Regions from separate parts of the Homo sapiens genome. Here region 1 is linked to region 2. The links come from fine-mapping of genetic effects on gene expression. A gene starts in region 2. The other region holds a variant in brackets. All regions are shown on one strand. Distances are from middle to middle.

Region 1 (2,909 bases), 130 kb after region 2:
GGATGTTTATTTGATACTTATTGATGTTTAAGCAAGCCTACTATGTTCACAGTTATCACCCCAAAGAAAAATATATTATTTAGTTTTTAGGTTTTATCTTATCTGTCCTTGGTCCTTGAAACAGCAAGAGAAACACGTACACTCTGTTCTTACTTGTTGTCATAGGATACCAGCTGCCTGCTGGGAAAAGCATACTGGGAAGTACTGTTCTACACTTTGTATTAAGAGTTAAAAAATAAAATACCCAGAGCCTGTGTAAATCACAGACAAAGTTGACAAATTTCATGGCTTAGTCATGGTTAACATATCAGATTTCATGGCTTGACAGAGATTAACAAGAAAATCATATTAGAATTACAACTATTAGTAGATTCTTAGATATTTGATAGAGAAACTCCAAGCTCTCCAAACGCCATTGCCCACTGCACAGCCCTCTTGTCCTTCCTCCTGTGGATAGAGCCTCCATGAATCCAGGGAGAGCAAATGGGATCTTCCATTGTTGGTCACAATCACCTCACCTCCTGACTATGGCAGGAGTGAGCCAGTGCCTAGTGGGCCCCAGGGAAAGGTCTTAGCATCCGCGAAATAAAGTAAGGTTTAATATTTATAGCCTAATTCATAAAACTGTAAGGAGAAAAAAAATACCTCATTTGTACATAACACAGGTATTTTACCCAATATTACATGCACTAAGGAGAGGAATGAATGATCATTGTTGGAACTATGATATTTTCGGTGAAAATTAAGTTTCCATGTCTTTACGAGGAAGCAATTCAGCAGAGGCCTTGTTGTTAAAAGTGGCATGCGAGCAGGAACTTCAAAAGACCTGCTGACTGCCTGCCGAGCCATTTGGCCGGAGGGCTCTGCATATCCTCTTTCGGGTAAGAGGCAGCTTACTTGTCAACTTTGCATAAAAGACAGCCAATTTGTCAGCCATTTGCTTTAATTTTGTTTCTGAGTCTTCCAACGACAAACTCCATATACCTTCTGGTCTTTAATATCATATATCTGACTGAGGGATGGAAATTCACTCTAGTGTCTCAGGCTGGTTTCCTTCCCAGGCCATCCTCCTGGGTCTTATAGGATGTCCTTAATCAGAACCACATTACTCAGCTAGAGGAAGTCCTTGTGCAGACGCTGGCAAGACACTATGGCAAAAGAGTTTCACAACATGAAAGGTCAGATTGAGAATAAAAGCTGCAGTTATCTGTTGTGTTTTCTTTAGTTGAGAAAATAAAGGCAGGGTGCCTAACTCCTGAGGAACCAAGATTTGGATAAGTAGCAGCCACTTAGGAAAGGAGTTCCATTGGCCGCTGAGTACAATGGCCAGTTGTGGAAATGGAAAGTCCTTAAATTCCAAGTATTCTGGACCTGAGCAAGGATTTTCTCATTTTATACAGATACGTTTTTATATTTCAGTAACACCCTAGACTGGTAAAACAAAAATAGCTACATCTTGTCAAAAAATATAATTGTCACTGGACTGTGTAAATATACACACATATATATATATACACTACATATATGTGTGTTAGATATACACATATACATAATATATATTTTACATATATGTGTTAGACAAATAAAGCACATTTTAATCGTAAAAGCTACCAGTTATTGTGCTTTTTTTTTTTTTTAAGTGCCAGGCACTATGTTAAGCACTTTCC[A/G]TGCATTATTTAGTCTCTCAACAAACTAGCATGGTAGGGACTAGCTTTGTCCCTATTTTACAAATAGAAAAAACTTGAGATTAGAGAGGAAATTCAAGGCACACAGTTAGACACAGAGCCAGAAGTGGAACCCAGGAGTGCCTGACCCCCGAGCCCAGCAAATTGAACCCTAGCAATTCTCACTTGTTCCATTAAGATGAGTGCCCAAGCTGACTGTGAAAAACAGGGGAGGAGGTGAAGTGATGAGCCATTTCACTTCACTAACACATAGGTGTGAAGGAGTTAGGCGTTACTCCAACCCTGTATCTTCATCCCAGGGAGGCAGCCTGCAGGCTTTGCCGATGGAAGGCAGGGTGTGAGAAAAGGAAGAAGTGATTGCAAAAACCCAAGACCCACCTCCTTTACAAATTTTGCCCAAGATCAGCCTGGCTGGGGAGACTCTGAGAACTCAGAGGGACCAGAGGACTTAATGGAAATCTGTCCCTCACCCAGTTTCAAACTGATAGCCTTCCCTTCTCATGCAAGGGGCTTGCCCTAGAGATTTGGGGCAAGAAATATTTCCAGTGCGCCTCTACCTTAACTCACACCACAGGGGCAGCTAACAATTACAGAAGGAATGAACTTTTTCATCAAATGTCCTTCCATAAAACCATTTCCCAGGAAATGGAACACAGCATGAAGCAAGCCGACTGCAATTTTCCACCAACAATGAGCATCGTGGGGCACAGGTACTATATTTAAACAATTTTCCTCCAGCGTTTTGGCAAGGCTGTCTCTCAAGGAGACTTACCAAGTTGGGCTGAGGTCTCATTCCCCTCCGGCCAGCAGGATCAGAATGTTTAATATGGCCCTGTCTCTTCAACACCCATGTGTAAACCACCAATAAACAAGCCAGGAAAGACCTGCAGGCCTAATTGCCTTTTAACTCTGCCAAGATGATAAACTCCCAGAGCAAAGAAGGAAAGACTTCCAGGGATTTAACAAGTTTATCTGCCTGCCACTTGAACATTTTCTGTCTGCCTACACTTCAGTGAATTCACCAATAAAAGGATAAAAGGGCCCAGAATGTCAGACCCCTCAAATGACCAAGAAGTTCCACATTCAAAACGTATGACCAGCAAAAATTAACCAGTTAATTGAGCTTCATTTTAGGTGTTTTTAAGATCTGGAGCAAGGGAAGTGGGGCCACTTGACTCTTTCTAGCACTGGCCATTTCTCTTTTATTGACCAAGGCCTAGAAAT
Region 2 (2,851 bases):
TGTTCTCAGAGCAAAAGGAAAGTCGTCAGTGAACCGCACTCAGTTTGTCTACTATCGCTCTTCCCCACTTTTTCTCAAAAATCAAAATTGTTTGCAGAACGGGTGGTGCGACCAGAAGTGATCTCCTGGGACACTGAGGCAGTGCGCCCGGCGTGGAGGGCGAAGGGGTAGGGGTTCCTGCCAGCGACGCTGGAGTTCCAGCTTCTTCAGGCGGTTGGGGAAATGGAGGGATAGGAAGAGGCGAAGGGAACTCAGTTAACTTCCAACAGGGGGTGGGGGGAAGTAAAGAAAAAAAGTGGCAGCGCACTGAACACCTACCTTCATGGCGAGGGGGAGGGGGCGCGGGGAGGAAGTCGCCACCCGAGCGAGCGCAGCCGAGGAATCCGAGCGGAGCGACCGGGTTAAGCCTGGGGGGACGGTCAGGAGCAGGGCTGCGGAGTCCTCCGGCGCGCGTCCGGCGGGCGCAGTGAACCGGAGCTGAAGCGGGCACTGGCGCCCGGGCCTGGACTCCCGAGTTGGGGCAGAGCTGGGATGCGCCCAGGAATGGAGGGGGCGCGGACGCGCGCGAGCCGGCAGCAAGGGCAGGGCCTGGTCGGGGCGCAACTAGGGAGCCGCCGGTCCGGCGAGGGCGCGCAGGCAACTGTTCCACGGAGAGGCGCTCCGTTTCCAACGTCCATCAGCGACGGCGGTAATTAGGGCTTTCCAACCCCAAATGTGGGCGTGATTGTGCAAAAGACCTTACGACAAATAATAATAAAAAGAAATTCTTCACAAGAGGGTGAAAAAAATGTACCACTACTCAACTGTGGCCCGGGGCGGGGGAAGGGGGGCGATCTGTGCGCCCAGGTGCCCCCAGTTCATTCACACCACAGATTCTGCAAACTCTTGGCGGCTCACGCCTCCTGATCTCCAGCTCCTCCTCTCTGGGTCTGTAGCCGAAACGTCTGCTTCCAGACGCTGATCCTGCAGCCGCGAGTTAGTGTGGACGTCTCTGTACACACACAGACACACACCCCAACACACACACCCCCGCTGCAGCTTTGGGGCCACAGAACAATCAGGCGCGCATGGCTTTTTCTCCGGGAGATGCCGCTGAAAACGCACAAGTCGCCATCTGAGCTGCAAGAGTCAGCCCCAAATTGTGTCCTTTCATTTTAGGGTTCGGCAAAAACGGGGAGCAAAATAGGTGAAAGTCGCCCCGGAACTTATTGCTGTGCGGTGAGCTGGAGGGGTGCGACTAACCCAGGGGAGACGCGGGCTCCCCCCCCCCACCACGTATCCCGTTCTTTCTCTCTTCGGGTTGATCTCTCTTTTCCCCGTTTTTCCAGGGCGAAGGGCGAAGAGCAGCGAGTGCACCGCGGGCGCGAGGCTGGGGAAGGGCGAGAGCTCGGAGCTCCGCGGCGGCGACTCAGCTCCGGCGGTCCATGGCCGGCGAAGCTGCCCACCTCCTCGTTTGGCGCCCGGGTCCGAGGGGCGGGAGAGCGGGCCGGCGGGAGGCGGGCGGTCCCGGGCACAACGGCGGCGGCGGAAGGGCTCGCTGGGCAGCTGCCGCACGGACCCCGGCTCTGGGCGGCGGAGGCGGCTCCGTGGAGCTCGCAGCAGATTTCCACGCGATCCTGTGCCCCGCAAACAGACTGACCGACCGCGGGGACGCGTCCCCCCCTCCCACCCCCCAGCCCTTCTGGCCAACTGCCTTACTCTCTCCCTCCCTCTCTCCAGACTCCTCTTTCCCCTGGTGTTCTCAGAAGGAAGAAAAAAAAAAAAAGAAAGAAAGAAAGAAAGAAAAAAGTTCTTTAAAGTTTCAGAACTAGGGGCGGCTGGAAAGAGAGAGGGAAGGGGGGGGAAGAAAGAAAAAACTCAACTTTGCTATGCGCATGCGTGGTGAGGCCGGCCTATGACAAACTCTGCAGGATTTTAAAGCCGTACTACGGGCTGGGGTGCCGGGAGGCGGGGTACACTCTCCTTGTCTCCCCTTCTCTAAGTTCCCCATCCCCCGCGGCATCTGCTGAAAGAGAGAGGTCCACTCCGCAGCCGCTGCCTGCCTGCCGCCTGGTTGTCTGCGCTCCTTCCAGAGCCACCGACCGGCGGGAGGCTGAACCCCAACTTCCCCGCCTGGACCCCTTGGCTCGCCCGCGTATCCCAGACCGCTCCCACTGGGGCTCCACGGAGACTGCTGCCTTGACATGGAACCTCATGGGGGACCTCCTCATTCTTACCTCTGGGGGAGGATACTTAAGCACTGGGGCTGATGGATAGGGTTAGGCGCTCACCTCCTGCAAAGTCCCCAGAGTAGTAGGGACTTGGGTAGTGGGATGCATGATTGCTCATCTGGCTCCGGCCCAGAGCATGAGGCGCGATGCGTGGTCCTGCCACGGAGATCTTGGCGGGTGCCCTCAGGTGAGGAGATTGCGAAGTTTGGCAAAACCGGGTTCCGGGCACCGGAATTTCTAGACGCTTCCAGATGCCCGTGGTTTTGGGGACTCCGGAGGGGCAGGGTTGGTGGATTTGTGTCCGCTACCTCCAGCACGCCGAGGGCCCCACCCCACAAACAGTGCCTCACACTGGAGCGTAATAGTTATTTTCCGCCGTCTGCATTCTCCAGCTGTCAAAGGTGAAGACACACACACGCGCGCACACACACACACACACACACACACACACACTATTCAATTTTCTCCGTCCATTGGCATGCACTTGACCTTAAGGCGAAAAATCCGTGGCCTAGGTGTTTTGGTGTGGTGGCTGTTTTGTTTTGTTCCTCCAGTCCTCCCCCACCTCCACCCCCACACCCCAGAGGGCGCAGGCCCAGGCTCCAGCGATGCCGTTCCACCCTCCACAGCCCCTTCCCATT

Which allele goes with the higher level. Positions count from the first base shown, and alleles are read on the strand shown. Sizes are in standard deviations (SD) of each study's normalised expression.
For the expression in monocytes after R848 of the gene that starts at base 957 in region 2, A is the low allele of the variant in region 1 and G is the other (large effect, 0.95 SD a copy in Quach 2016).

Evidence for each region. PIP is the estimated chance that this variant, and not a neighbour inherited with it, causes the effect.
Region 1: its variant is fine-mapped to the expression of WNT5A-AS1 in monocytes after R848 (Quach 2016, PIP 0.90).

What each region holds. Positions count from the first base shown.
Region 1 is chr3:55,615,009-55,617,917 of GRCh38, forward strand. The region is part of intron 17 of ERC2 (ELKS/RAB6-interacting/CAST family member 2); the gene reads right to left. Among named protein-coding and RNA genes, the nearest start is that of ERC2-AS1, 8.8 kb to the left of the region's middle. RefSeq lists enhancers at 10-785, 786-1,560. The variant A/G (reference allele first, on the strand shown) is at 1,668.
Region 2 is chr3:55,486,662-55,489,512 of GRCh38, forward strand. WNT5A-AS1 (WNT5A antisense RNA 1) reads left to right here and starts at 957. Exons shown (of 2, transcript NR_046656.1): 1 at 957-1,218; 2 at 1,329-1,647. WNT5A (Wnt family member 5A) reads right to left here and starts at 645. Exons shown (of 5, transcript NM_003392.7): 1 at 319-645. The coding sequence starts at 324. RefSeq lists enhancers at 2,269-2,779, 2,780-2,851.